Homo sapiens: one gene and its partners. The protein of the gene in region 4 interacts with the protein of the main gene of each other region in a biochemical or structural test. Each region holds a gene or a part of one and is shown on either strand. Other genes may lie near its edges. The genes, in order: PTPN7, MEIS1, NDUFAF2, TLK1, ENKUR, CAPRIN1 and EGLN2.

Evidence for each region.
Region 1: the proteins of TLK1 (region 4) and PTPN7 form a complex in vitro, tested with the Homo sapiens proteins (one large-scale study listed by BioGRID).
Region 2: the proteins of TLK1 (region 4) and MEIS1 form a complex in vitro, tested with the Homo sapiens proteins (one large-scale study listed by BioGRID).
Region 3: the proteins of TLK1 (region 4) and NDUFAF2 form a complex in vitro, tested with the Homo sapiens proteins (one large-scale study listed by BioGRID).
Region 5: the proteins of TLK1 (region 4) and ENKUR form a complex in vitro, tested with the Homo sapiens proteins (one large-scale study listed by BioGRID).
Region 6: the proteins of TLK1 (region 4) and CAPRIN1 form a complex in vitro, tested with the Homo sapiens proteins (one large-scale study listed by BioGRID).
Region 7: the proteins of TLK1 (region 4) and EGLN2 form a complex in vitro, tested with the Homo sapiens proteins (one large-scale study listed by BioGRID).

The regions. Positions count from the first base shown.
Region 1 is NC_000001.11:202,150,171-202,154,409, forward strand, and holds part of PTPN7 (tyrosine-protein phosphatase non-receptor type 7), read right to left. Parts: intron 4,154-4,239; coding exon 4,016-4,153; intron 3,681-4,015; coding exon of another isoform or gene 3,666-3,680; coding exon 3,555-3,665; intron 2,530-3,554; coding exon 2,372-2,529; intron 255-2,371; coding exon 141-254; intron 1-140. UniProt on the Homo sapiens protein: Protein phosphatase that acts preferentially on tyrosine-phosphorylated MAPK1. Plays a role in the regulation of T and B-lymphocyte development and signal transduction.
Region 2 is NC_000002.12:66,571,125-66,575,108, reverse strand, and holds the end of MEIS1 (homeobox protein Meis1), read right to left. Parts: intron 3,864-3,984; 3' UTR 1,240-3,863; downstream 1-1,239. UniProt on the Homo sapiens protein: Acts as a transcriptional regulator of PAX6. Acts as a transcriptional activator of PF4 in complex with PBX1 or PBX2. Required for hematopoiesis, megakaryocyte lineage development and vascular patterning.
Region 3 is NC_000005.10:61,094,626-61,098,864, reverse strand, and holds part of NDUFAF2 (NADH dehydrogenase [ubiquinone] 1 alpha subcomplex assembly factor 2), read right to left. Parts: intron 1-4,239. UniProt on the Homo sapiens protein: Acts as a molecular chaperone for mitochondrial complex I assembly. Complex I functions in the transfer of electrons from NADH to the respiratory chain. The immediate electron acceptor for the enzyme is believed to be ubiquinone.
Region 4 is NC_000002.12:171,049,142-171,053,380, forward strand, and holds part of TLK1 (serine/threonine-protein kinase tousled-like 1), read right to left. Parts: intron 1,034-4,239; coding exon 923-1,033; intron 810-922; coding exon 673-809; intron 1-672. UniProt on the Homo sapiens protein: Rapidly and transiently inhibited by phosphorylation following the generation of DNA double-stranded breaks during S-phase. This is cell cycle checkpoint and ATM-pathway dependent and appears to regulate processes involved in chromatin assembly.
Region 5 is NC_000010.11:24,995,388-24,999,626, forward strand, and holds part of ENKUR (enkurin), read right to left. Parts: intron 4,160-4,239; coding exon 4,014-4,159; intron 483-4,013; coding exon 259-482; intron 1-258. UniProt on the Homo sapiens protein: Adapter that functions to localize a calcium-sensitive signal transduction machinery in sperm to a calcium-permeable ion channel.
Region 6 is NC_000011.10:34,054,290-34,058,528, reverse strand, and holds part of CAPRIN1 (caprin-1), read right to left. Parts: intron 1-4,239. UniProt on the Homo sapiens protein: mRNA-binding protein that acts as a regulator of mRNAs transport, translation and/or stability, and which is involved in neurogenesis, synaptic plasticity in neurons and cell proliferation and migration in multiple cell types.
Region 7 is NC_000019.10:40,805,419-40,809,529, reverse strand, and holds the end of EGLN2 (prolyl hydroxylase EGLN2), read right to left. Parts: intron 2,976-4,111; coding exon 2,856-2,975; intron 2,393-2,855; coding exon 2,256-2,392; intron 2,047-2,255; coding exon 1,979-2,046; intron 1,722-1,978; coding exon 1,666-1,721; 3' UTR 1,096-1,665; downstream 1-1,095. UniProt on the Homo sapiens protein: Prolyl hydroxylase that mediates hydroxylation of proline residues in target proteins, such as ATF4, IKBKB, CEP192 and HIF1A. Target proteins are preferentially recognized via a LXXLAP motif.

The DNA of each region.
Region 1 (4,239 bases), on a different chromosome or scaffold from region 4:
ATAAACAGCTCTAAGCAGAAAGGGTTTCTTCCTTTCTTGCAGGAGTGCTTGATGGTGATGGGCCTAGCAGAACTCTGGGGCCCAGAGGCACTGATGCCATCCGTTAACGTTGTTGGCCTTGTTTACACCCACAGACCCACCTGTCTAGCCGCAGTTGGCACACAATACCCAGAATGTCCACTTCTCCTCGGGCTTTCAGCTGTTGACAGCCAATTCGCGTGGCGATGAAGCAGCCCGTCCGGCCAATCCCTGCACTGGAGATAGCCAGGGAGGGGACAGGGAGGTCATGGGAGACCAGGGAATATGAGAGCCAGGCCCCAAACTATGGAGAAAGAAATGGGACCTGCAGGTGCTATATTTTGGGGATAGGGCTCTGGAGATGGAGGCAGGTAGCAGTACTCTGCTTTCCAGTCCCCTTGGGGGCCCTGCTGGAGGCAGGTTTTAATTGGCATGGGAGGAGTTTACATTTCTTACCAGCCTTACTGTAAGCCTGTTGCAGGCCACCTTTTGGTCCCTGTGGACATTTTGACGATCTCCCTTCTGCTGAGTCTACAGTGGTTTCCAACAGACAGTTTCCCACTTGTGGGTGTGCTGACCCTCGAGCCCTCCTTATCTAACCTTGACTTCCTCTCAGCTCAGACTCATCTTCCACGCAGCCCACGCCCGGCCCCTCTGTTTCCCACCTTGGCGCCCTCCCACAGTCTTCTCTCCACTCTGTTCTGCTTTCTCTATCGTGCCCTCTCTTTATTTCAAAACCCCCTAGGCCTCCCCTTCCTCTTGCGTGAGCCCCTAATGACCTCCCTGCACATGTCCCAGTGCTACCTGTGGGTGGGCTGGGAGGCCCCTGTGTCATGCCTTTTGCCTCTGTGCTCTGTTTTATTTAGGATATGCACTCCCAAATGGTCCCTTTCTTTAGTCTTGTCCCCTACGACACCCCCTCACTCTGGCCCAATCCATTTTTCACTCTATAGCCAAAGTGTTCTTTTAAAATGGCAAATCCAAGTGTCTTAGCCAGTCCTCCAAGTCCCCTCATCATCTGACCTTCACTGGCCTTCCAAACCCATCTCTCATCATTACCCCACACACAACCTCTGGGCCTAACCTGTAACCCTGCTCCCAGCAGTGTATCCATTTTCACATTTCTTCTCTGGGCCTTAGCATGTGCTCTTCCACTTGCCTGGAACGTGTTCCCTTCCCTCTCTTCACTTGGCTAATTCACCTTTCAGGTCTTAGCTTGGCTTAGATGGCCTTTCTCTTGGAAAACTTTCTCTGGTCAAAGTCTGGTTTAGGAGACTTGGTTCTATGGTCCCCATAATATCCCCATCACAGCTCTCATCACATTGCGTGGTATTTAATTTTTTTTTGAGACAGAGTTTTGCTCTTGTTGCCCAACCTGGAATGCCATGGTGCGATCTCAGCTCACCACAACCTCCACCTCCTGGGTTCAAGCAATTCTCCTGCCTCAGCCTCCCGAGTAACTGGGATTACAGGCATGCGCCACCATGTGTGGCTAATTTTGTATTTTTAGTAGAGACAGGGTTTCTCCATGTTGGTCAGGCTGGTCTTGAACTCCCGACCTCAGGTGATCCTCCCGCCTCAGCCTCCCAAAGTGCTGAGATTATAAGCATGAGCCACTGCACCCAGCCTAATCTGCCTTCTTTCCCACCAGCCTATAAAACTGTCTGGGAAGAAACCAAACTGCTTGGTTCATAGCTGTCTCCTTAGCAGCTAACACCGTGCCTGACAAAAATAGGTTTTCCTTTTTTGAGATGGAGTCTCGCTCTGTCACCCAGGCTGGAGTGCAGTGGTGTGATCTCGGCTCACTGCCTCCAGAGTTTGAGCAATTCTCCTGCCTCAGCCTCCCAAGTAGCTGGGATTACAAGTGTGTGCTACCACGCCTGGCTAATTTTTGTATTTTTTAGTAGAGACAGGTTTTCACCATGTTGGCCAGGCTGGTCTCAAACTCCTGACCTCAGGTGATCTGCCAGCCCTGGCGTCCCAAAGTGCTGGGATTATAGGTGTGAACCACCGTGCCCGGCCAATAATAGGATTTTCAATACATATTTGTTGAATAAGTAAATGAGTTCCCCAACAGCTGGAATCCTGTTTATGTCCTCCTGCAGCTGACTGGGATCTTCCTGATATTCCATCCCCTCTATGGATGGGGCCTGGGTGTCCAGCCCAGATGTCTGGGTTCTGCGTGAAGGAGGTAAAAAGAACAGAGCCCTTGCTGAATGGCCTTGCGAGTCATGTCTGAGTAAGGACTAGGCTTGCCTGATGCTTTTCTGCTCAGACCCTTCCCCAGGAGAGACCCAGGGGGCAGGGGAGGGGAGCACAGTCCACAGGCTGCAGTGAAGGGAGGGCCACGCACCTGCAGTGGACTACGATAGGCCCGGGGTGGGCGGCTGTCTCCGGGCTCTCCTCCACCTCTGCCACTAGGCGCAGCAGGGGCCCAGCTGATTCTGGTGTCTGATGGTCTGGCCAGGCCGAAAAGAGGATGTGCTTTACTGACCGGCGCTCTTCCTGGTACTGGATTGGAGACAAGGCATGAGAACCAAGGTCAGGGTGGAGGGCACTGTCTACCTTCTTCTCTGGTGCCTGAGGAGGGCAAGGGCTGGAATTACCCTGTGGGGGGGTCATCTACTCAAAGCAAGCTAGGTTGCAATTTTCGTGCTCATTGTTCTCCACCACTTCCCCCTTCAAAATCCCGGGAAGGAGCATTGTCCTGGGAGAGGGGAGAGACCCAAATTCAAGCCCTGGCTCTGCTTCCCATAAGCACATGACTTTGGGCAAGTCCCTTGATCTCATTTTCTTCACCTGGAAAATGGGAACAGTGATATCTTACTGGTTTACTTGCCAGGATATTTGGAGGAGAATGAGTTGATAGAGGAATGCTTTCAAAAATATAAAACACCATAAAATAATAGAAGGCATTTTAAAAGCCCTTGTGTACATGTTATTCCACATCTCTTTCTCTTTTTTTGTTTTATTTTGTTTGTTTTTTTTTGAGACAGACAGTCTCACTCCGTCACCCAGGCTGGAGTGCAGTAGCACAATCTTGGCTCACTGCAACCTCTGCCTCCTGGGTTCAAGTGATTCTCCTGTCTTAGCCTTCCAAACAGCTGTAATTTTTAGTACAGACAAGGTTTCACCATGTTGGCCAGGCTGGTCTGGAACTCCTGACCTCAAGTGATCCGCCCCCCTCAGCCTCCCAAAGTGTTGGGATTACAGGCATGAGCCGCCACACCTGGCCTTCCACATCTCCTTTAACCTCCTCTCCTTCCCTTGGCCCTGCTCCTGGATCCTGCCTGTCCCCGCCTGACCATTTACACAGATGGGTGAGTACTTCCCGGTAGTCCTATTTGGCTTATTGGCTCTGCCCTATTAGACTAGAGGCTGAGGACAGTGCTCAAGTTTCTCTTTCTGCTATAGATGTGGGTTTAAGATGGTTTAGAAGAGCAAACCCTTGGCTCCTAGTGAAGAGCCAGCCTGAGTCCCAGAGATGCTGTGGGCGGCCCAACTTCCCACTGGGCCTGGCTCCGGGGGGGTGGTACCTGGATGGTGAGCTGCCGCACAGTGTATTCTGGGCACTCTTTCATGTCCTGGATGCGGATCTGGAAGGGTCCATAGGTTTCCTCTTCTGTGGGCCAGTAGTGGACACATTTCTAGGAGGGAGGGAGCTGGGAGTCAGAAGAGGGTCAGCTGGAGCAGGTGACAGGGCAGCAGAGAGGGGCTGGTATCTCCTCCCCATCCTCCACCCCTACTGGATGGGAGGTCAGCAACAGGGAGCCTGGCTCTTCTGAGCTTGATACCTGCAAGCAGAGTGCTCACCCTATCCCGTATTTTGGCCATAGACAGCCTCCCAGGGCTATATCTCAGGGAACTTTCTGAGAGGTATGAGCTGGGGCTGGCTCCCAGGGAAACCTCTGGTTCTGAGCTGCCCTGTGTGTGGGGTGGGGGTGGGGTGGGCATAGCACTTTCTGGGTTCATCATGAACTGTGGCTCTGCCTCCTACCTCCTTGCCCTCTCGGAGCTGAGTGAGCATGACAATGAGGGACACTTCCTCTTGCCACACCATCTCCCAGAAGTCCGACACAGTGTTGGGCATGGGGCCCTGGGTGGCAATGTAGACCTTCTCCTTCCCGTCATAGCCCTGGAAGGTGGAAGCACAGGGGAAGGGGTGGGGAGCAGTGAGAGCAGAGCTCTGGGGAGATCCTAGATGCCTCAGGTGCTGGGGTC
Region 2 (3,984 bases), about 100 Mb from region 4:
GACTTTAGGGTCTTTCTTTGTATTTTAACATTGTATATAAATACTACACAACTAGGCAACGTGTTTCCTCGAGGACTGGACTCTGCGAATTACATAATGAGGGGAAAGAGGTAGGGGTGGGGAAGGGGAAGGGGTGGGGGCAGACTGCAGCGGGCGGAGGGGAGACTGGGGCGAGCAGCGGATGAATTGCAGACCAGTTGCCAAAACTTTTTTTTTTTCCCTGCTGCTGCTGCTGCGGCTGCCTTTGCTGCTGCCTTTGCTTTGAATGTGGGTAACTAGGAAACAGCAAGCCGTCTGAGAAGACGGAATTTCCAACGTGTAAAATGTTCTTAACGGAACCATTGAGCGAGTGCAATAAGGCGTGAGGGGGAACTAATCTTCCCATTTAAATGTTTGTGGCAATTTTATCTAAATGAATTTTAATGCTAAACGAGGGTAATTCCCCATTTGTAGCGCGTTTACTTCTCTTTCCTGTGCTTCTAAAGCAGTCGAACATCATGCAATGAACAATAACAATAAAAATACTGTCAAGGCATATTATTCATTTTGAATGTGTTATAATTACAGCTGATTAAATATGATAGGGTAAAATATTTTTAATTTTTTGAAAAAAAAATTTAAATCATATTAAAAAGTAGTCTCATTCAGCCAGAGCCAGCCCCCTTTCCACCCCCCCCCCACCCCCCCACCCCCCCACCACCAAATAAAAATAAAAACCAGGTACAATTTTGTGCCCTTGTTTAGAGGAGGGCGTTTTGTTTTTGCCTTTTAGGAAACATCAAAAACACTCTCAGCACCTCTATTATTTGCCTCTTTCGGATAAGTGTCCTCAATAACCTTCGAGCTGGCTCTGAAATTTACAAGAGGAAAAGCTAAAATAGCATTAAGAGGGGAGGGCATCGAGGCAGGGGAAGAAAGGAACTGCGAAGAGCGAGGCTCTCACCTAAATGGCTCACAGAGGGGGAACTCACGGAAATAGCAGTTTATTTTTTCTAATTCCTGGACACTGCTGATCTCGATTCTTCAGAGTCACCATATTCCCTAACTACTCTTCACTTGTAAACCTCCCTCCCCTAGCGCCTCTCTCTTTCTCTCTGTCTCTCCCTCTCGCCTCTCTCCCTCTCCCCACCACACCTCCTCCCCTTTCTTTCCCTCCCCCACCCATCCTGAGCCTCCTCAGGAATAAAGGCTGAAAATAACCAACTCACCCGGGCATGTACTGGAGAGGAGGAGCAAATAGACAGTTTATAAAGTTTATTATTAATTGTTAAAGTAAATAAATGGTTGTTAACTGCTAGCAACCACCTATCAAAAGAGAATGATTTCACTCACATCGACTATTTAGGTAGAGGAAGAATTGCCACTAGGTCAACAAGGGAGATTTAAACAATCCCATCTATGGGCTGGGGAGGGGTAGAAGCGCTGCCAGAGATGGCTGCAGTAGGCTGAGCCTTGCTCTCTGCGCATCCACGTGTTTAGAAACAAGGCCCCATCAGCAAAAGGTGAGAATGCATTGCTACTCCAGCAGGTGAGTCAGTCAATCACACATCACCTAGTAAAGCCAACCCACAGCTGGTTTCTCTTTTCGAATAGAAAATAGAATTGCTAAGGGCCGGTTTATAGGGTGACTTGGGCCTGAATGTCAGACTTGAGTTTAAGGCTCTCTCTCCTCCGACCCATCCTTTGTTTACAAAGCAATCACTACTGAAAGGCTTATTTTTTAAAACGAATTTGCCTTAATTAAAATATTTGTATATTTTCCTTAGCTTTGGGAAGCACTTTTTATAGCAGCAATTTTATTTAAATAAAATTATAAGCTATTCCAGCTTAAACATATTATTTTCTACCATTTAGCCGGCTGCCATGCAGAAATCTTGTACAGCTGTTCTGGAAAATTGGTTAATAACCAGTTTTATCCAATGAGAACATAGAGCATATTTATAAAAATTAGATTTTGAAGTCTGGTCTCTTCAATTCATGTAGTTAATTTCCTAATAAACATATACTGCTCATCCTAGGTAACATCCTTTAGTAAAAGACTTAACTTTGTACTTAGGTTTGCCTTTATGTGCAAGAATAATTTCACTGATATTAGATGAGTAATTCTGTTGGATGTAATTCTGAGTCTAGAGTTAGTTTAGTGCCTTTAGGCCTCAAATTTGCTGATATTAGGAGTTCATTAAGTCAGCTTAAAGAAATCAGTGGTTATTATTAAACAACTTACTTTGCGGTTAAAATTGTCAAATACATATATGGCTTAGGGAGCCAAAATTAATTTTTATATTTACTGTATTAATCTTTAAAAATCTGGGGGGCAGTAAACAAATTTTTCAAGCAGTGGAGTCAGCATGACAAAAATAATCTTGTTTTTATTTTAGATTCAGATTTCATTACTGCACTCAAACGACTACAACTGGGCTTGGCGTTATTATACAATCCAAACTGTTTCCATCAGAAACGCTAAGACTCAGTGTGCAATGATTGTTATTAATAATTAGCTCCTTGGTTTCTTGATAGAAAAAGGCTATCAACAAGCATTTGTTTATCCACAACAAAAAGTATAATTAGCTTATCCCACTTAGTAAATCTTGTATGCATGCCAACTCATACCAAACTGCTACTTTTACAAAAAAAAATTGCAATAATACAGTTCATTTTTCCAGTCCTTTTTGCACAAAATTTATTTACAATGTCTACATAAATGCTCCAAGGTGGGACTATGAAAAAATACACACATGACCGATGCTTTGCTCAGAAATAAAGTCAACATATTAAAAATAAATCTTCAGTCTATGTTTTAGAGCTGCTTAAAACAGGAAGTGATGTATAAGGTGGTGGTTGTTGCATGGGGACAATGATGCTTGATGTGACAATTAGGCTTCTAAACACACGGCCTTTTGGTTTCCATGCCTCCTCCTACCAGTCTCCTTAAGACACTGCCTGCAACAGCTGATTAATCATTGTTGATGACTGCAGTTTTTCCCATCCTTCCCGATTTACATCTGTTCAGGCCAATTCAAATATGGTGAGTAAATGAATTAGACATGCAAATTCAAGCCCCAGGCTAGAAAGAGGGAGAGAGAGGAAAAGAGAGAGAAAGAGAGAGAGCGCGCGCATGGCTGAAATCCTAGGCGAGAAGAAAGATTCTTCTGCCTGATAGTTATTTTAATGCTCTAAAAATCCTGCAAATCAGACCTTCCTGTCCCTTGCAGGATAACTGTAAGGCTTTTTAATGTAAGGAGGCTTCTGGAGGAAGTGAAGAGCTATGGAAACAACACACATAGTGTGGAAAAATTTCACATTTTTTTTAAAAAATCTATAAGAAACAACGTAATATGGATAACAGTATAATAGCATTTACAATATTTCACTCTTTGTTCTCTTAATGTCTTATATAGTTATTTAGCATGTCCCCCAAATTGACTTCAGTTGGTATTTCCTGCTTTTTAAAGGTCCCTATGAAGAATTAGGGATGCTCCTTGGTCCAGAGTAGATGCCAAGAATGGAACTCCACAGTCATTGCAGAAAAAACATGATTTGAAATCAGTCACCATTGCAGACAATGCATATTCCCTTAAGCTACTGAGCATGAATGTCCATGACTTGTCCACTCATTGTTGGGTCTCCTGTATTAAGAACTGTGGGGCTTGATGCTGACATTGGCATTCCAGGGTGGGGCGGTCCTCCATGCATCATCACTGTTGGGTGGTGAGGGTGTCCAGGAATGTACGTATGCATGGGGGGCCCATGACGCAGCTGAGCAGGATGGGGGGGCATCTGGGGTTGGGTATAACTTGGCTGTCCCATACTCACACCCATTGGACCACCCCGGGCTACATACTCCCCTGGCATACTTTGCAGCCCTGTAAGAAATTCAAAAGAAAGAAACAAAAAGAAAATGTTATGAAAAAGCAATAGTGTGGTCCTGGCTATGACAATCCTATAAAAGCCAGAGAACCCTGTGATTAAGGGAACATGGTTTTG
Region 3 (4,239 bases), on a different chromosome or scaffold from region 4:
AAACAGATTAAGTCCCTTCTCTACTGTAGCACATGTACTACTGAAGGGGTTGCAGAAAATAAACACACAAACATATGGTTGGTGGTGATATGTGTCATGAAGAGAATATAATAGTGTAGAGAAGATAAAGAGGGGACAGTTTCATATGTTTAAAATCATACCTCCTAATCATCTAAATTCGACTGGGTATATTTATGGCATACAAGCCAAACCAAAATACAGCAAACTTCAAGACAATATCAAAATTATATTATTCTGGAAATTTGAATTAGTTACTGTTCAATTTATAAAGGAAGGGACTTAGAAAAGTTTTTCATTTACAGAGGTTTCTTTTCTGATTTGCTCCAGCAAGCAAAAATATCATCAGGCCTTAGCTCTAACACTTGGCAGATGGGCTGCAGAGATAGAGCCCACATTTGTTAAGTGGCTGCTGGGGCCTGGGTACTGTGCTGGATGCTTTGCAGCAATGGGAAGGGAGTGGGGCAGCTGCCTTTAGGGAAGTTATCAGAATCACATGGAAGACAGTATAGTATAGTGCTTATGAGATTCTAAAGTCAGATTTTCTGGGTTCAAATCCCAGCTTCATCACTTACTGTCTGTGTCACCTGGAGCAAGTTATTTAATTTTCTAAGCATCAGGCTTCCCATCTATAAAATGGAAATTATAAAAGTATCTACACTTCAGGGTTGTTGTGAAAATTATATAAGATAATATACATAAATGTTTACTTTGAAGCCTGGCACATAAGTCTAAGTTATTAGTATAATTATTACTATTATTCAATAAATCTCTTAAAAATAAGACTCAAAAAACAAAAGATCAATAATATCTGCTTAGCCTGCAATGTTGTATAGGAGACTGTGAGAAAATATATTGTAGGGAATATGATCTTGAAGGCCACTGTTTTATCATTTCAGTTGATTCACTCTTCACTACAAAATTGAAGAAATAGAAATAAAATGAATTCCTCAAATTTATACATTAAGTAGTAATGGTTGTATTTGAATTCAGATCTGACCCTGTCTCTGGCTCTAAAAACCATCCACGCTCAACTAAGCAGTCTTTCAAAGTTTATGAACAACATGCAAAGAATATTAAACCAGAAAGAGAAAGCCAGGCTAGGTGTGACCCTAACTACATGTTAGAAAAATAAGAATTATTGATCCCATTTTAGAGATTTGGAAACTGAGGCCCAGAGAGATTAAGAAACTTTCCTAATGCCATATAATTAGCGACTGGGAATTAAACCCTGGTTGAACTGGCTCTAAAGTCTTAGCTTTATCCATTCACCAGCCACTATCTCTTGTGACCAGCTCTAACAGCCAGCCTTATTCATTTAGGCACAGACTGTCACTGACTTACAGTAGTTTGACTTAGGATTTTTGACTTTACCATGGTATGAAACCATTCTGTTTTTCATTTCAGTACTTATTCAATGAATTACATAAGTTATTCAAAACTTTATTATAAAGTAAGCTTTGTGTTAGATGATTTTGCCCAACTGTAGGTTAATGTAAGTGTTCTGAACACATTTAAAGTAGGCTAGGCTAAGCTATGATGTTTAGTAGTCTAGGTGTATTAAATGCATTTTCTACATGATGATATTTTCAACATATGATAGGCTTATTGGGACATAACCTCACTGCAAACCAAGGATCATCTGTAATAGCACCAGGACTTGTCTTCATAAAAAGCCCAGCACTGAATGGTTTGTGGGGGTGGAAACAGCAACATTCAACTGCGGGCTTGGGATCAGTCATTTCCCCCTGCTCTATTCTCTCTTGCACTTATCCCTTACATGTATCTCCAATACAGTTCCAGTGTTCTCCATTCTCTACTACTGTTTCTAAATTTCTACCCTTGTTATTCTTTCTGCATTCTGTTTCCTTCTTTCTTTTTTTTTGAGACAGTCTCGCTCTGTTACCCAGGCTGTAGTGCAATGGTGTGATCTCAGGTCACTGCAACTTCTGTCTCCCGGATTCAAGTGATTCTCTGGCATCAGCCTCCCAAGTAGCTGAGATTACAAGTGCTCGCTACCATGCCCAGCTAATTTTTGTATTTTTTGTAGAGATGGGGTTTCACCATGTTGGCCACGCTGGTCTTGAACTCCTGACCTTCAGTGATCTTCCCACCTTGGCCTCCCAAAGTGCTGGAATTATAGGCGTGAGCCACTGCACCCAGCCTGTATTCTGTTTCTATTAGCTTTTACTCCTATTTGGCCAATTTCTAGCCAAAACTTGTACAGATTTTTTTTTTTTTTTTTTTTTGCAATGGTGTCTCACTCTGTTGCCAGGCTGGAGTGCAGTGACGCAATCTTGGCTCACTGCAACCTCCGACTCCCTGGTTCAAGCAATTCTCCTGTCTCAGCCCCCCGAGTAGCTGGGACTACAGGCACTCGCCACCACGCCCAGCTAATTTTTGTATTTTTAGTAGAGACGGGGTTTCACCGTGTTGGCCAGAATGGTCTCGATCTCTTGACCTCGTGATCTGCTCGCCTCAGCCTCCCAAAGTCCTGGGATTACAGGCGTGAGCCACCACACCTGGCCAACTTGCAAAGGTTTTAATCTCCCTTGTGAGTCTGTAAGGTTGTCAAAGGCAGGAGGTACCCATGGGAGATTTATTTTTCTGTCATTTTAAGTACCTACTCTTTTGGGGTATTTACTCTTTTAAATGCTATAAAAGAGGTGGTACTTTAAAAATTATTGAATGAATATTTTGAAAAATATTTGTTCTATCAGGATTTTGATCTTTATTAGAAAATCCAGCTTAGCAATACCACAATTCCTTTGTGTAGTCAAGGAAATAAGTGACTTTGGGAATTTTTCAATTGCCTCTTTATGGCCCAAATTAAAGTTACTTAGATTCAGGCCAAGATGGACGACTAGAAACAGCTAGGGTACGTGGCTCTCATGGAGAGCAACCAAAGGGGCGAGTAAATATAGCCCCTTCAACTGAAACATCCAGGTACTCGCATTGGTACTAATCAAGGAAACAACTCGACCCCTGGAGAATGAAGAAAAGCAAGACAGCACAACAGCCCACCCTGGAGCGACATGGAGCCAGGGGAACCTCCCCCACCTAGGGAAGTGGTGAGTATTCAAATGTGTGACCCTGGGAAACCATGCTTCTCCCATGGATCTTTGCAACCCTGAGTCAGGAGATCTCCTCCTAAACCCACTCCACCAGGGCCTTTGGTCTGACACAGAGCTGTGTGGACTCTTGGCAGAGCAGCCACTCAGGCACGCACAGAGGCGCAGCTCTACATACTTAGGCTCCACACTTCCTGGCAATAGTGACTGCAGCTCTGTCAAGGCAGGAGGTTGGACCTCTGTACATACCCCTAGGAAGAAGGCTGAATCGAGGGGGCTAAGCAGTGATGGTCCGCAGGCCCCACTTCCACAGTGCCTCAAAGGACAAGACCCACTGGCTTAGAATTCCAGCCAACCACTGGCAACAGTGTCGCCCCCTACCTGGGACAGAGTTCCTTGGGGGAGGGAAGGGCCACCATCTTTGCTGTTTGGATAACTCTGCAGTTCCAACCTGTGAACTTTGGAGAGTCCAAACCGACCAGAAACAAAAGGGATCTCCCAGCACAGCACAGTTGTTCTACCAAAATGTGGCCAGGCTGCTTCTTTAAAGTGGCCCCCTGATCTGTTCCTCCTCCCCGGGCAGGAGCTCCCCACTGGGGCCTCCAGCCACCCTGCCCATGTTCTCAGGCTGACAGAGATTTGAGAACTTCCTGAGACAGAGCTCCCAGAGGGAGAGTTAGGCCGCCATCTTTGCTGTTTCGGTGACATAGCCATTCCAGGCTCCGGGCTTTGGAGAGTCCAAGTTGACCAGGGGTGGAAGCGGTATCCCAGCACAGCACAGCTGCTCTATGAAAGCATAGCTAGACTGCTTCTTTAAGCAGGTCTCTGATCCTGTTCCTCCTAAATGGGTGAGACCTCCTAACTGGGGTCTCTAGCCCCCTCCTACAAGTGCATTCAGGCCGGCAACAGGTCTGTATCTCCCTGGGAAGGAGCTCCCAGAGAAAGGCGCAGGCTGCCAGCTTTGCTGTTTCGCAGCCTTCATTGGTGATGTCTACAGGTACTGGAAAATTCAAGGTGACTAGGGACTGGAGTGGATCCCCAGAAAACTGCAGTAGCCCTATGGAAAACTGACTAGACTATTAAAAGAAACAAACAAACTAAAAAATAAAAACCCATCCAAAGGTCAGCAACTTCAAAGATCAAAGGTAGA
Region 4 (4,239 bases):
AGACAGGGGCAAGGATTGAAAAACTACTGGGTACTATGCTCACTACCTGAGTGGTGGGTTCAATTGTACCCCGAACCTCAGTATCAAGCAATATACCCCTGTAACAACCTGCATATATATTCCCTGAAACTAAAATAAAAGTTGAAATTAAAATAAATAAATAATAAATAGAGTTTACCTCAGAAACGCTAAAGCCACATGTTCAGTTTAACTGATAAATCAGTTATTATATCTGAGGCAAAAGAGAAGTTTTTTCCCTTAGGAATAGAGAGCAGGCAAGTGCTGAACATTAACATGTAAGGATTGGGGAATGGGAAAAAACTAAGTAGGAAAATCCTAGGAAATAAACACACACACAAATCTTCCAGTGAAAATTAAATTTTCAACAATTTCCCTCTCAAAACATCATCTGTAAAGCTAAAGGTTCAATTAATATCTCGGAAAGTCAGAATTAGAATAATATATTACATTCTATAGATGACTGCTAATTAATCAAGAAATTACTAAGCTAAAACTGTAATACTCTTGGTTTCATATCCCTTTCAAAGGTACTAAATTCTATGATTTCAGAGTAGCGAGGAACTGGAGAGCATAATTACAAATCTATAATCTTTTAAAGTAATGAAAACCCAAACGAATACTAAAAACTTTTAAATGTTAAGAATGACTAACTTCACAAGATTCTGAAATGCAAAACCATCTGTCCATTGTTCAGTAAATGAAGCGCCATGTCTAACTGTTGTAAAGTGCCCGAGGCGTAATCGATCTTGCATACTCTTCTCTCTGCTTGACAGCTTTTCTTGTGTACTCTGAAAAGGAGAAAAAAAATCATCACTCAATTGTATTCATTAATTTATAAAAGCATACAAAGCAAAAGGGGCTAATGAAGGGAAAGCGAAAATTTACTCAACTTTTAGCCTACCTTTTCAATAAGAAGTTTCTTGCTCATTGATATGCACTTATTTAATCGTTCTTTGTATTTTTCAAGTAATTTTTGTTGTTCATCTATTTGCCGTCTGAGATCACAGTTAGCCTATGACATAAGTAGAAAATGCAAGAGGTCTAGACTGGGGAATATGAAAAGCTTAGAAATAGTTTTAATGTTCTAAATAAATTATATACAGATAGGACTAATAATATTAAATATCTGAGTATGATACGAGAAAAAAAAAAAGCCTACTTAACCATGAGATAATACTGTTAAATGTTACTTAAGTGTGTAGTGGAAAGTACATACAGGGAAATTTGTATCCATATCCATACATTCAAATCCATACTCTAAGGTTAACTTTGGCTAAGTTATAAGAACTTTAGTTCAGCTTTCTTATTTCTAAATAGAAGCAACACAATCTACCTCACTTTGTTAAAAATAACTAAAATATGGTATATAAAGTGTCTATCACTTAAAAATAAATGTGAGTTTTCCTCTATCTCTTATAATTAACAAATTAAATGTGGGTTTTCCTCTATCTCTTATAACTAACAAAATATTTTCTCCACTGAACTTATAAATGACATACACAAGTTGCCTACCCAACAACTGTCCTCACCATTCTTCCTTAGCAATAGGATACTAATTCTGTTCACTTTGTAGGTGGCCATATGCTCAGAGAAGAGGCTTCCTTCTAACATCAAAAGATGAGTCTGATTAGTACAGTGGCAAGAGAATAACCTATAGGGCTTGTTACAACAGATTACTGGGAACCATTCCCAGAGCTTCTGAATCAGGTCTCAGGAAGGACCTGAAAATTTCCGTTTCTAATAAGTTCTCCAGTAATACTGATGCTCCTGGTCTGAAGATCACACTTTGAGAATCAAAAGTCTAGGCCAACCATGGTGGAATCCACAAGACAAGGGCACAAAATCTTAAAAGTGCTGAGAGAAAAGAATTGCCAACCTAAAATTAGATACCCAACACAGTTGTTTTTCAAGGAAGAGGAAACAGAATTTAGCACCAATAGACCCTCAGCAATTCAAACAAAATCTCAACACTGTGTGTGTATGATGCATATGCAACTTGAAACCTGATTCTAAAATTTCTCTAAGACTGTGAAGGGCCAAAAATAGCCAAAAAGAAGAAGAGGATATCTGTTTAACCATGTATCATGACTTAACATAAAGCTACATAACTATGATCACCCAAGCCTCCTCCTTCCTTAATAATGGAAATTCAATGTTTTATCCTGGATTGCTATCTGCCTAGCCAAATGACTACAGTTCCCAGCTTCCCTTAGAGCGAAGGATGGTTAATGAGATGCAAGCAGAAGTTGTTCAATGAGATATCCAAGAAGGCTGCACACAGAATTGTGCTTTGTGTTCTCTGCTCCCATCCTCCCTCCTGTTATCTGCTTAGAACACAGATATAATTGTGACCCTAATAGATATATTGAACCTTGATGTGACCTTTGAGATATAAGCCATGAACTAACAATGACAAGGTCCCTTATGATACTGAGGAGTAATAATATCTGAGCTGCCCACTTCTGTTCTTCTCTTGAAAAATAAGCTTCTATCTCATCTGAAGTACTGTTATTTATGTTCACTGTTACTAACAGCCAAAAACAACTGATAAAAATTGTTTTATCAACAATGATAAAAAGATGCTGCAGTACTTGTGTAGAGACACAAACAGAACAAGGAAACATGATACAGAACACAGAAACAGATCCACCTGTATACTGGAAACAAGATTTTATGATGATAGAGCTGGCAGTATAAGAATGAGCTTTTAATTAAATGGGGATGAACAACTGGTTATCCATATAGAAAGAAATTGAAATGAAACCCTACATCATGCCATACCCAAAACCAATTTCAGTAAGACTAATAATTTATATTGAAAGATCAGCTGGGCATGGTGGCTCATGCCTATAGCCCCAGCACTTTGGGAGACCAAGGTGGGAGGATCACTTGAGGCCAGGAGTTCAATACCAGCCTGTAGACTCCCAGCTCTACAAAATAAAAAAAAATCAGCCCGGAGTGATGGCATGAGCCTGTAGTCCTAGCTACTTGGGAGCCTGAGGTAGAAATATTGCTTAAACCCGGGAGTTTGAGGCTACAGTGAGCTATGATCCCCCACTGTGCTCTAGCCTGGGCGACACAGTGAGACCCTGTCACTTAGCGGGGGAAAAAAAAGACCAGACCAAAAAACCTTGAGAAATAACTGGTATTATACAGTAAAATGGAAAATGCGTATGCCCTGTACTCTGGCTATGTCTTTCCTAAACATATACCACAGAAAAATTCTTTCATATGTGCCCTGAAGACATGTACAAAGAATGTTCTTAGAACTGTTTATACTAGAAAAAGTAGAAATAAAATGTCAACTAAAAGCAGAAAAGATACAGAAATTATGGTATACTTGTAACACCTTACAATATTGCAATGAAATGAACAAACTACAGTTATACTCATCAAAGTGGATGACTCTCTGATATATTTCATTGAAAACAAGCTGGGCAAAAGGGTCCATACTGGAAAATTTCACTTAACGTTCAAAAACCAACTGAAATAATATGTTGTGAAGAATGTAAGCACATATTTAATACAACCATAAAGAAACACCAAGGCATCACAAATACAAAATTTAAAATAGTGGTTAAATGGTAAATGGGTGTGAGAAAGTAAATATGACAGGATCAGGAAAAAGACACACTGGATGTTTTAAAGACACTGTCAAATACAGTAGGATCACAGGTGTTGGTTTTATCGAGTTTCTACACCAGTAGTTCTCAATGCTGTCTTAAATTAAAGTTATCTGGGAGAGCCTTTAAAACTACCAATGTCCAAGACCTACATCATCATCAACTTGATCAGAACCCCTCAGGGTAGAGTTTCAGGCATTAGTACTTTCACCCTTCCCAACTGGTGAGTCTAAGGAGCATCAAGGGGTAAGAACTGCTGCTTTAAACCCTTACATTCTTAAGTATACTTCTAGATGTATTTTTAAATAAAGCTTCCATTAAAAATCCTACAGAACTGCAGCAGTTACTTCATCGTATAGGTATCAGATGTCAGGCATATAATAAAATCAATAAACTTTAACATGAAATGGCTATTTGTGTTATGGTAGTTGGTCATATAAATGTTATTAACTTCCAGTTCTCCAACAGTTTCTCAATTCCCAATTTATTGAAGATCTAATAAAATATTTCACTTTAAAATTGGTATTTTTCAATCATGTACTTAAACTAACAGAAAAAGCTTATTGAGTTCTAGCTACAGAATTTTTTTTTTTTC
Region 5 (4,239 bases), on a different chromosome or scaffold from region 4:
GTTAAATATGTTAATAATCAAAATTAAGGAAAACAATAACTTTTATCTACTGAACTATATGGAATTGTTTACTATGGGTTCTTTGTAACTTCATCCCATTACATTTGGACCAAACACAGATTGCAGAAGAATGAGAATCAGCAAAGTAGACAATGTGTCCAATGAGAGCACTAATAATGATAACATAGATGATCATCATGAACACCATATTTAAATTATTTGAATTTCAGCCCTCTTATTAATATACCACAAGGCTACCTTTTTATTGATGTACTTTGGAACTAGTCCTGAAGGCTCAAGATCATGCTTGTCTCCAGTTCTTTTATCAACATAAATTGGTTTAGGCTTTTTAGCCACTCCCATGATGATATCAGCTGCATTTGTATTTATAAAATTTTTTCCACTCTGTATTCCCATGACAGGATGATCAGTCTTCAATGGCACAGCAGGCTTTTTGGGCACGTTCCGATCAAAGTTTTTTTCTGTTAAATATAACATTTCTTTGTTAATATTAAACTACAAACACTGCTACTCAGTGCTATTTATAATATCCAGATATTTCACCACTTGTATATTGAAGTTGCAGTCATAATATATTTAAATATTTAAGATAGAAGTTTATGCTTACCCCCAAACTCATTGACTTGTAGACATTAAATATGCACAGCTTTTTACCTGTCAATCAGGCCTCAATAAAATAATTTTTTAAAAAGAAAAAAAGTCAGTAATTAAAATGGAAATAAATTAAGGGCAACATAATCAATTAATATGTTGAGGAGGCCGGGCACGGTGGCCCACGGTGACGTGGGCAGATCGCTTGAGCTCAGGAGTCTGAGACCAGTCTCGGCAACACAGTGAAACCCCATCTCTGCAAAAAATGCAAAGTTAGCCAAGCATGATAGTGTGCACCCTTAGTCCCAGCTACTCAGGAGGCTGAGGTGGGAGGATTGCTTCAGCCTGGGAGGCGGAGGTTGCAGTGAACCGAGATCATGCCATTGTACTCCAGCCTGGGTGACGGAGTGAGACTCTGTCTCAAAAAAGATCATATATGTGTGTGTGTGTGTGTGTGTATATATATATATATGAACAGTATATAAATACAAGGAAGAAGTATTTCTTGCTTATTGGCCGTTTTTACACAGCCTCTTCAGTTTGATCATTCCCATTGATCTATTTTAATATAGCCAAATGGTTTGCCACAATGCAAAAATGTGAAATAATTTATTTTTAAGAACTGAAAGCAACAACTGTCTTGAAAATGCCTTTTCCAATTTTAACCCCATCACAATTACTAAGGACTGACTTTATTCATTTCTGCATCATTTGACCTTTTTTATTAGTTTATATAACTTTTATTATCAGCAAAGCCAATACTTACAGTTAAAAGTCTATGAACTGGATTAGCCTCTTGTTAGGGGCTGAGTTATGTCCTCCTAGAATTCATATGTTGAAGCCCTAACCCCCAGTATCTCAGAATATAACTGTATTTGTAGAAAGGTCTTTAAAGAGGTAATTAAGTCAAGATGAGGTCATTAGAGAAGGCGCTGATCCAATATGACTGGTGTCCTTAGAAGAGGAAATTTGAACACAGACATACATATAAGGAAGAACACGTAAAGATACAGAGAAAAGATAACCATCTACAAGCCAATGAGAGATGCTTTAGAAGAAACCAACCCTGCTGCGTGTGGTGTTGCATGCCTGCAGTCCCAGCTACTTGGGAGGCTGAGGCAGGAGGATTGCTTGAAGCCAGGAGTGTGAGGCTGCAGTGTGCTTTCATCATGCCTGTGAATAGCCACCACACACTCCAGCCTGTGCAACATAGACCCTATCTCCAAAAATAAAAACAAACAAAAATACTCCTAAAAAAGAAAAGCAAAAATCAACTAATCCTCTGACATCTTGATGTTGGACTCCTAGTTCTCCAGAACTGTCCTCCAGAACTCTCATTGGACCGAGTTTTTAAAGCTTTTGCAAAACCCTGCATTCCTTTTTTTTTTTTTTTTCCTCTTTTTTTGAGACAGGGTCTCCCTCTGCCACCCAGGCTGGAGTGCAGTGATGCAATCATAGCTCACTGCAGCCTCAACTTCCTGGGCTCAGGTGATCCTCCCACCTGAGCCTCCCATATAGCTGGGACCACAGATGTGCATCAGCACACCTAGCTAATTAAAAAAAATTTTTTATAGAGATAGGGTCTCACTTTGTTGCTCAGGCTGGTCTCGTACTCCTGGGCTAAAGCAGTCCTCCTGTCTTGGCCTCCCAAAGTGCTGGGATTGCAGTCATGAGCCACTGTGCCCAGCCCTAATACCCTGAATTGATGAATTATTCTAAAGGCCAATGAAATTTTGGGTTTGCTTTTGCCTTACAATGTTTACAAAATGATAGGCTTCTTCCTTTTTTCTTATTTGACACAAAGGATTTATATATATATATATATATGTTTGTGTTATATCATATGTTTAACCCTAGAGAGGCTATATGAGGACCCAAGGGATACCAGTGGTCCTAAGGCATTGAAAGCATCAAATTCCATTTTAACATTTTCCTATATTCTCAAATGGTATTGTTGGTCATAGAATGCTGGGTCACAACAGGCCAAGACTAGAGGAAGATACAAAAGAGACTTCTGAAGTCACGAATTAAGCATGAATGTTGTATTTCCACACTTGCTTCTTCCATCTTGCCATCTTGCCTGATAGTGCCCTCACCTTTTTTCATGAGATATGGGTTGAGAGAGGATTTGGGGACATTAAATACTGCCATAAAGAGAAGTAGTTTCACTTTTGTTAAAATGTACATCGCTAGCCGGGCTTGAGATGTTGCATTATTTCCTCAATGCCAGCAGACATAAAAAGCCAACATTTTGAAGAGACAGACTCGTTTCTTTTTTCTTTTCTTTTCTTTTCTTCTCTTCTCTTCTCCTCTCCCCTCCCCTCCCCTCCCTTCCCTCTCTCCCTCCCTTCCTTCCTTCCTCTCTCTCTCTCTCTCTCTCTCTTTCTTTTTTTGAGATGGGGTCTCACTTTGTTGTCCAGGCTAGAAGGCTGTGGCTTGATCATAGCTCACTGCAGTTTCGAACTCTTGGGCTCAAGCGATCCTTCCACATCAGCCTCCAGAGTAGTGAAGACTACAGGTGCATGCCATCACACCTAGCTAATTTTTTTTATTTTAATTTTTTTGTACGGACGGGGTCTTGCTTTGTTGCCCAGGTGCTCTCTTTTCTTTATTGCCCTAAGACATCTGGGAAGACATACTTGGGCTATGAAGAAATTGCTTCCATACATACCTGTCACACATCACTTTTCATCTACTCTCCCTTTCCCTGATAGCTTTCTTTCCTGAAATCATTCAAAAGACTCCATAACTGGGATCAAGTATATAATTTTTGAGGCCCAGTAAAAAATAAAAACACAAGGCTACTTGATCAAAAATTAAAAATTTTAGTACAGCAAGAGCACAGCATTAAAATAAGCATGGGGCCCTAAGCTGGTTCTACCACTTATTCATGAAGTCTCCTCCATTACATCTAACTCATTGCAGTCCAGTTAGTCTTAAAGGTCTGGGAGAGTAAAAGCCCGTACTCAAAATGAGCCCAGTAGTTGCTTCAACAACTGGTAGTAATGGTTGTAATTTTCATCTCTTGGAGAAAAGGCCAGACAGGGTTTAGATGCTGGGCAATCTTGCCCATTAGTCAGATACTGTCCCTGGGGTCTTGACTTTTCCTATAATTGTTGTTTATAATTGAAGCCCCACAGCTAGGGACTAAGATGGTGATGCATGTGGGCTTCATTGGATAGTCCAAACCCAATCTAAAGTCTATTCTGGGGGCAATTTATCACACTCCATTCTATTTTTCTACCCAATTCTCTACTTCCACTTTCTCCTAGTCAAATTCTGTTTAATATGAGGTAAAGCTGCTATCACCTGTGCATGTTTAATATTCATCAACAATAAAATAATAGTTAAATCACCTGCTAATGCTTTTAATATTAAAAATAAAGCATGATAAAACCTACTGGGTGGTAGAGTTTTTTCCTTTGAATGTTTCTTTAGGAAATCCTTTGGAGAAGGTACTTCAACTTTTGCTGGTCCCATAGTTTTCATTGCAGTTTTAGCTTTTTGCATGTCATCTTTTACAGTTGCCTTAAAAATGGATATGTACCTAAAATTGAATTTTAAAAGTTGTAGCATTTATACTTCTAGTAAAAATTACCTAAAGTTTACTTAAAGTTTAAATCTTAC
Region 6 (4,239 bases), on a different chromosome or scaffold from region 4:
TTTACTTGATTCTACATAATTAAACATGAAAACTACACTTAGGCCGTGGAACATTACAAATTCTAATTACTCCCATAAAACATTATTTAAGAGGCCGGGTGTGGTGGCTCACGCCTGTAATCCCAGCACTTTGGGAGGCCAAGGCGTGCAGATCACTTGAGGTCAGGAGTTTGAGACCAGCCTGGTCAACATGGCAAAACCCCGTCTCTACTAAAAATACAAAAATTAGCTGGGCGTGGTGGCATGCACCTGTAATCCCAGCTACTCGGGAGGCTGAGGCATGAGAATCACTTGAACCCAGGAGGCAGAGGTTGCAGTGAGCTGAGATTGCACCACTGCACTCCAGTCCTGGGCGACAGAGCAAGATTCTGTTTCAAAAAAAACTGCGAGAATTTTGGAAATCACCCATTCCAACCTAAGTCATTCCATATAAACATCTCAATTTTGTCTTCTATAAAATGAACTGGACTAAATTCTAAGGTGGTTTAAGCTCTAAAAAAAAACTCTTAGGCCGGACATGGTGGCTCATGCCTATAATCCCAACACTTTGGAGGCTGAAGTGGGTGGATCACTTCAGGTCAGGCGTTTTGAGACCAGCCTGGCCAACATGGTGAAATCCCATCTCTACTAAAAATATAAAAAATTAGCCGGGCGTGGTGGCGGGCGCCTGTAATCCCAGCTACTCAGGAGGCTAAGGCAGGAGAATAGCTTGAACCTGGGAGGGGGAGGTTGTAGTGAGCCGAGGTCATGCCATTACACTCCAGCCTGGGCAACGAGAGCAAAACTGTCTCAAATAATGATAATAAATAAAAATTAAAAATCCTCTAAATTTTATAACAGTGTAAGATTATAGCTATGACAAAATTGCTATAAGTTTAACCTTTTGCAAAAGTATTGCAAAAATTAACACTTTTACTAAAGGAAAAGTGTTAGTTTTTCTAAAAGATGAAACAGTACTAGTCTTCATCTAGCCCTAAATGTAAACTAGGAAATTAATTACATAAAATTTTGGCAAATTGTATGCTTAATCTGTAAGTCACACAAAATGCATTCTCAAATATCTGCCACATGGGTAGTATCCTAGAGTACACTAATTTGGCCACGTTAAAACAATACATTCTCAATGTAATACTTAGGCTTCGACTCTCACCCTAGAAAAAGGTACCCATTATCACTTGGGGGAATTCACAGCTTTAAATACTTCCCAGTGCTACACATACAAACACACACAGTCAAGCAAAGGGAAACAAATTAAGCATTACAGCTTTTTTCTATGACAAGGTGAATGCAAAATAATCTTGCCCTCTGCATTGCAGAAGAATAGTTCTTGCAACCCATGGAAAAGCAAACACATCAAGAGATCTTAAATGTCAAAGAAGGCTTCAGGTAATAGCCTCAAGGAAAGATTTTACTTATAAAATAGTTAAGAATGTTTTTATTTTAAAACACTGAACACATAAGTTCTGCACAACAGCTGCAATGAAAATTCTAAGCACAGACACACTGCAACGTTCTAGAAAGAAATGTTACCCTCACAACAACAGCATTCTTTTTAAAGAATACTACTAACTGCAAAGATGAAGTGCAGAAAGCCTTCAGGAAAAAGTATTAAAAACACTACACTTCTGGCTATCAGTTTTGGTCACTTAGTGGTTAAAAAGCTGTCAGGCTATTTTTGCATTTTACGCAAGTGATCATTAGTTAATCTTTCACCTACCAAAGTCACTAGAGTCTAAACCTATTATATTCACAAAGAATATAACAATTTTAAATGTCATCTATTAAAACATCCTTTATTCTATATCACAACTGATTACATCTAATAATATCAAATGAGGTCTCTCTTCAGTTAAAATTAAGACTTGGTTTTGAAATATCTTGCATAGCCTAGGGCCCAGTTCAGCACCAATGAACTGATAAAGAAAACTAGGCAGTTAATCATTCAATTCAATATTACCTGTAAGATTTGCAAATGGATTTTACACTTGATTATCACAGCTGTATTTCTTCTCTTTGCTAAACATTCATGTACTCTTTATAAGCCTGAATTTAAAAACCCACCAAGCCTTTTAGTTGCATTACATAACACGATCATATTTCATCAACATTAAGAGCATGCATTCTCAATGAGCAGATGCTTAGCTTTTTCTTTAATGGCTCAAATTATTAGGAAATAAACAACTTTGTTTTTTAAAGTACAATAAAATTATTTCAATTCTCTGTTTTAATTTAAGCAATACTACATATCCATAGTCATTTTTGCCAGGATATTTGATTTTAAAATCCATAAAAAAAGCATTTTGGTCCAGAAGGCTCCGATAAGAATAGGTCAAGATTGAAATAAAGCTCAAATGTAAGTTGCTAAATGGACTGAAGTCAAAACAAATCTAATTGTAAATAGTACCTCACTTTACTCCACAAGGGTTTCTAAAGAGGAATTCAAAACTGATTTGTAAAGCAATCCTATTTTAGTGCATTAGAAATGCTCACTTATACTTAAAAACAGTTAAGTCTTCTCACAAGTAAATCATCTAAATATAAAAAGGATTTAAACTAAAAACCAGATGTGCTTAAATTTAGGGCAAATCCAAATGCCCTGGGTTTTTCAAAGGGCAAAAGATATAGTTTTAATAGCAATTAAGTCAACATCAATACTGCCAACTTAACTACTTAACATGTAGGTAGAGTTCAGTCTGTGGCTTATCAAAGTCTCAAGACTTAACTGTAACTTGACCTTTTTGCTGCTATCTACCACTTAAAACACTGAGAAGACAGAAAAAAAAGTTACTTTGTGCAGTTTGTTGAATCTCCATTATTAACACGGCAATCTTTCAGTATGTATTAGCCTAGTTAATAACCTATGTAATAATTACATTATTTTCTCCTTTATGACTTTAGGGGAGGCCCGGCATGGTGGCTCACACCTGTAATCCCAGCACTCTGGGAGGCCGAGGCGGCTGGATCACCTGAGGTCAGGAGTTCTAGACCAACCTGACCAACAAGGTAAAACCTGTCTCTACTAAAAATACAAAAATTAGTTGGGCGTGGTGGCAGGTGCCTGTAACCCCAGCTACTCTGGGCGGGGGGCCGAGGCAGGAGAATCGCTTGAACCCAGGAGGCGGAGGTTGCAGTGAACCGAGATCACATCGTCGCACTCCAGCCTGGCGGACAAGAGCGAGACTTCTCAAAGAAAAAAAAATTGCCTGGGGTGGTGGCGCACACTTGTAATCACAGCTACTTAGGAGGCTGAAGCGGGAGGATCACTTGAACCCGGGAGGTGGAGGTTGCAGGAAGCCAAGATCATCCTACCGCACTCCAGCCTGGGCACTCCAGCCTGGGCAACAGAGATTCATCTCAAAAAATAAAAATAAAATAACAAAATCACTTGAGGGTAGGGTATGACAGAGTATAGTAATTCACATACACCTATACACATTTAATGACCAGTCATGGTTCAAGTCCTCAGGAGGGGCTTATAAACTAGATTTATATTTTTTTTTCAGAAGTACTTGAACACTAGATTCTAACAGCCACCTCACAACTAAATTGGCTGCCAATCAGCACCTACCTTTATATTAACTTCTCTGAGGAGTTATCTTTCAGTCATTAATGTCTCTACACTTTATATCACTAATCATTAATGTTCATAATTAGTATTAACACATTATTAATGTTCACAATCATTAATATTTTATGTTCAATTACTGTCCTAGAAAAAAACATTTCCAAGAAATTCTAAAGAATCAAAAACTCAAGTAGCAGCCAGATCAGCAGGCTTGCTTACTGCATTAAAATTTTAAAAAGAGGCCGGGCACAGGGGCTCACTCCTGTAACAGCACTTTGGAAGACCAAGGCGGGCGGATCAGGAGGTCAAGAGATCGAGACAATCCTGGCCAACAGGGTGAAACCCTGTCTCTACTAAAAATACAAAAAATTAGCTGGGCGTGGTGGCAGGCACCTGTACTCCCAGCTACTTGGGAGGCTGAGGGAGGAGAATCGCTTGAACCCGGGAGGTGGAGGTTGCAGTGAGCTGAGATCGCGCCATTGTACTCCAGCCTGGGCAAAAAGATCGAAACTCCGTCTCAAAAAAAAAAAAATTTAAGAAGATACCCAACAGGGTAAACTAAATCATGTGTCAGACTCAGAAGATACTGGCCTTGGGCATGCTTATTCCATTCAACATTTGAATGTAGCTACCTTACACTTAAAATACTTTTGTTACTTTCTTGATGTAACTAC
Region 7 (4,111 bases), on a different chromosome or scaffold from region 4:
GTGCTTCATCAGCGTGGTGCCCCTGGGGCTGCCGCGCACCCTCACCCTCGACACCCACCTGCACAGCCACTGTCTGCCCAAAGGTACCCACTGAGTCTGGGGATCCCGTGCGGGACCCGGGTGCATGAGATCAGCCAGAATCAGCAGGTGTGCGCTGTGCAGACCAAAACACAATCAGTTACCCCTGGAGCAGGAAGGCAGCTCTGCCTTCCCTTAGGCTTTTTGTTGTTGTTGTTTGAGACGGAGTCTGGCTCTGTCATTCAGGCTAGAATGCAGTGGCATGATCTTGGCTCACTGCAACCTCCACTTCCTGGGTTCAAGCGATTGTCCTGCCTCAGCCTCCTGAGTACCTGGTATTACAGGCACCCACCACCACGCCTGGCTAATTTTTGTATTTTTAGTAGAGACAGGTTTCGCCATGTTGGCCAGGCTGGTCTCGAACTTCTGACCTCAAGTGATCTGTCCTCAGCCTCCCAGAGTGCTGGGATTACAGGCGTGAGCTACTTGCCCGGCCTATTCCCTTGGGCTTTTAAAAAGCGTCTTGGATGGAGGTGGTGCAGGTGCTCACCAAGCCCGCAGGTAACCCAAGTTGCATGTATCCCCAGGGCACTTTTGTGATTCCCCTGCTTGTGACTGCACACCGGGACCCCACTCAATTCAAAGACCCAGACTGCTTCAACCCTACCAACTTCCTGGACAAGGGCAAGTTCCAGGGCAATGATGCTTTCATGCCCTTTGCCTCAGGTGCAGGCAGAGGAGGAAGGGGACCAGCCTGGACTGGCTCTGGGGTACCTGGTGCTCACTGTGCACCTGTGTACCCGGCAAAGCAGATGTGCCTGGGCACAGGCCTGGCCCACTCGGGTATCTTCCTATTCCTTACGGCCACCTTACAGAGGTTCTGCCTGCTCCCTGTGGTACGCCCTGGCACCATCAACCTCACCTGCAGTGCACTGGCCTGGGCAGTGTCCCCCCAGACTTCCAGCTCCAGCCAGTGGCCTGCTGAGGTCAGGCTCCACTATGGTGGGCTCACTGGCCCTCAAACCTCCATACCCTCCTCGGTCAATAAAGGCCCTAAATTGCAGATGGAGTCAGATGTGTGCAGCTCTGAGGTAAACTTTTATTTCTTGGCTGACAGGACTTCCACACCCATGCTCCTCCTGGCACCTTTTACTCTGCCCAAGCAGTGGCAGCCCAGTCCAAAAGGTGCCTGCCATGGCCAAAGGGGTTGGGGAGTCACTTCACATTCCAGGCTGGAGGAGTGAGAGGACTTGGGGGTACTCCTCCCACCCCATTGCCAGCAAGAGGCCATGACTCACCTCAACCCCAAGTCCTGCATCCTGGTGGGAAGTGACAATGCCTCCTCCCAGCTCTCCATACCTAATGGGGTCATGACCAGACAGGGTAGGACCCAGGCCCCCAGCTTCAGTTGGTAACGGTGGCCTCCACGGCTGCCCCCTGTCCAGGTGACAACCCCAGCCCCCATGATGGGGCAGCAAAGGTCTCTTCTCCTCCTTGGTCCTCAGCAACAGACAGAGCCCTCCACACCAGGCAGGACAGAGGCAAAGTCAGAAGCAGCAGCGGTGGCAGGGAAGGAGCAGCCAGCACAGGCCCAGGGCTCTCCTGAAGTCATTTAAGCTGTCTGCCATGCGGCTCTGGGACTGGCCACTAGGTGGGCGTAGGCGGCTGTGATACAGGTACTTGGACACCTTTCTGTCCTGATGCTGGGGGTGAGAGGGGACAGGAGACAGTGAGTCATCAGAAGGACAAAGAAGCCAAGGGAAACCTGGGGAGATGGGGAGAGGACCAGGAAGAAATGGGGCTCCTGTTGGGGTACCAGGAGAGTGGGCTAAGGAAGGTGGGCAGAGATGAAGAAAAATGAGTGGTGGGATTTAACAAGAGGCTGATGAGGGGGATGGGGTGGCATCAGGCCCAAGAGGGCCCACAGAATAGGAAGGACTGAAGGGAGGGAAGCAGGTACCTAGCTGATACTTGTCTTTGGCTGCTGCCCGCTCCTTGGCATCAAAATACCAGACAGTGATGGCGTACCTGGAGACCAGGGTGGTTGGACATTAGTTTTCTGCAATTCCAGCTACCATATCCACACACACTAGGCGGCCATCCTTTTGAGCCACCCGGTTCTGCTCCCACCTAGGCCCCCTCTCAATACTTCGTCGCTCCCTAGTCACTCTGAGGCTCTGACAGGACATTGTCACAGGGGGAGCACCTGGGTGCGTCTCCAGAAGTACAGGTCATACCTGGTGGCATAGGCTGGCTTCACCTCGTGGGGGTTCCGCCGGTCAGACCAGAAAATGAGCAACCGGTCAAAGAGTGGCTCGATGTTGGCTACCACGGGCCGGCCCTCAGGGAAGATCTGCAGCAGGCCGCCATGCACCTGGGGGCAGGCCAAAGGATGAGGCTAGCTGGTACGGCCAGGAGCCGCTGCCTCCCACGGTGCCCCGGGAGCCCACTAGGAGGCGCAGCGTCTGCCTGCATCACTCCCTCCCACCCCTCGGGCTCTCAAAGTGAATGACAACCCAGAGACTGCATCACCATGGAGATGGGCAGGAAGCTACTAAAGACAGGAAAAGGGGGAAAGTGTTCATTACAAGGCCGGGTGGGGCTGGGCAGACAGCACCATTCCCGGAAAGAGGGGAGTTCCCACCACACAGTCCGCTAGAGAGGAGGAGGTGCCATTTCCCAGGAAGAGCCGGCAGATCGCACTGCCCGCTGTGTGTTGAGAAGAGAAACAGGAGAATGCCAGAATCTGGGCTGAGAGTGGAAAATGGAGTGGACGCACGCCACCCCCGCCCCAGCCCTAGCCCCAGCGCCACCCTCACCCTCACCCTCACCCCTACCTTAACGTCCCAGTTCTGATTCAGGTAATAGATACAGGTGATGCAGCGCCCATCGCCGTGGGGATTGTCAACGTGCCTTACGTACCCGAGCCCGTTGCCTGGGTAACACGCCACCATGGCCTGGCAGGGATGGAGGGAGGTAGGTTTACTGGGGCTAGGCAGGCACATCTTAGAGAAGCAGCCATGAATTACCTATTTTCCCACCCCTCCTTGCCCCATCTTCCCCATGACTCCTTGGGTCAAGGGTTCCAAGCTCCTGCCCCAAAAGACTTTCTTTTTCAGCCAAAATCCCATCCCCAAGTCTATCAGAAACCTCAGCTCCTGGGCCTCAAGAGCCCACTCCCTCCCAACACACATACCTGGGGCCTGGCACCCAGCTAGGGCTCAATTAGTAACAGAGTTTGATTTGTTTCAAGATACCCCAAACCCCACCTCAGCCATTTCAGTAGAATAATACCAATTTAAACATTTTCAGGTGTGCAAGGAGGTGGCCTCACAGCCCTAGACCAGGAATTCTTACCCTTGGCTGTGGAGTGGAGCCCCCTGGGGAGCTCTGAGGTTCTGAAGTACCTGGCCTAAGGAAGGGCCTGAAATTGGTAAAGCTTCCCAGGTAATTCTACCATGCAGCAATGTTAAGAACTGCTGCCCTGGACTACAAAGAATCCCCACTAAATTATCTGTCCCATAGACCTCCGAACAGGAGCCAAAAGCTACAGTCTGAATAGAAAGACCTAATTCCAACTCCAAGGATAATTTGCTGGGTAACCCTAGCCAGTTCCAACACCTGAATGGGCCTCAACTGCCTGATGTGTACAGCAGGGGTAATAAACACTGCTGTTTACAGCGGTAGCAATTAATCTCTCTGAGAACATAACTTGGGAGGTTCTGGAGCCCCAACTCCTGGAGATCTAACAGGACTCATTGCAGGGCTTGGTTTCTCTGTCTACAGGGTTCTTTCCTCTGCCTGACAGTTGCCACTCCCCTGACCCAGCCCTACAATGCTGTGGCCAGGGCCCCGGGATGTTTGTCATCAGGGAGCTGGCAGAAAGGTGGCTGAGAGGTAAAGGAAATGGCCCAGCCACTTCTGCAGACACAATTCCCTGGTTCAAGTCTCAGTGCTGCCACATGAGCTGTGGCATCAGGCAGGTGACTTCCTGGTCTCAGGTTCCTCATCCATGGATCCAATGGAGCTCACAGCTATTTCACAGGTTGTTGTGGAACAAGTGAACAAGATAACAAGTGTCTGGGAAGACAGC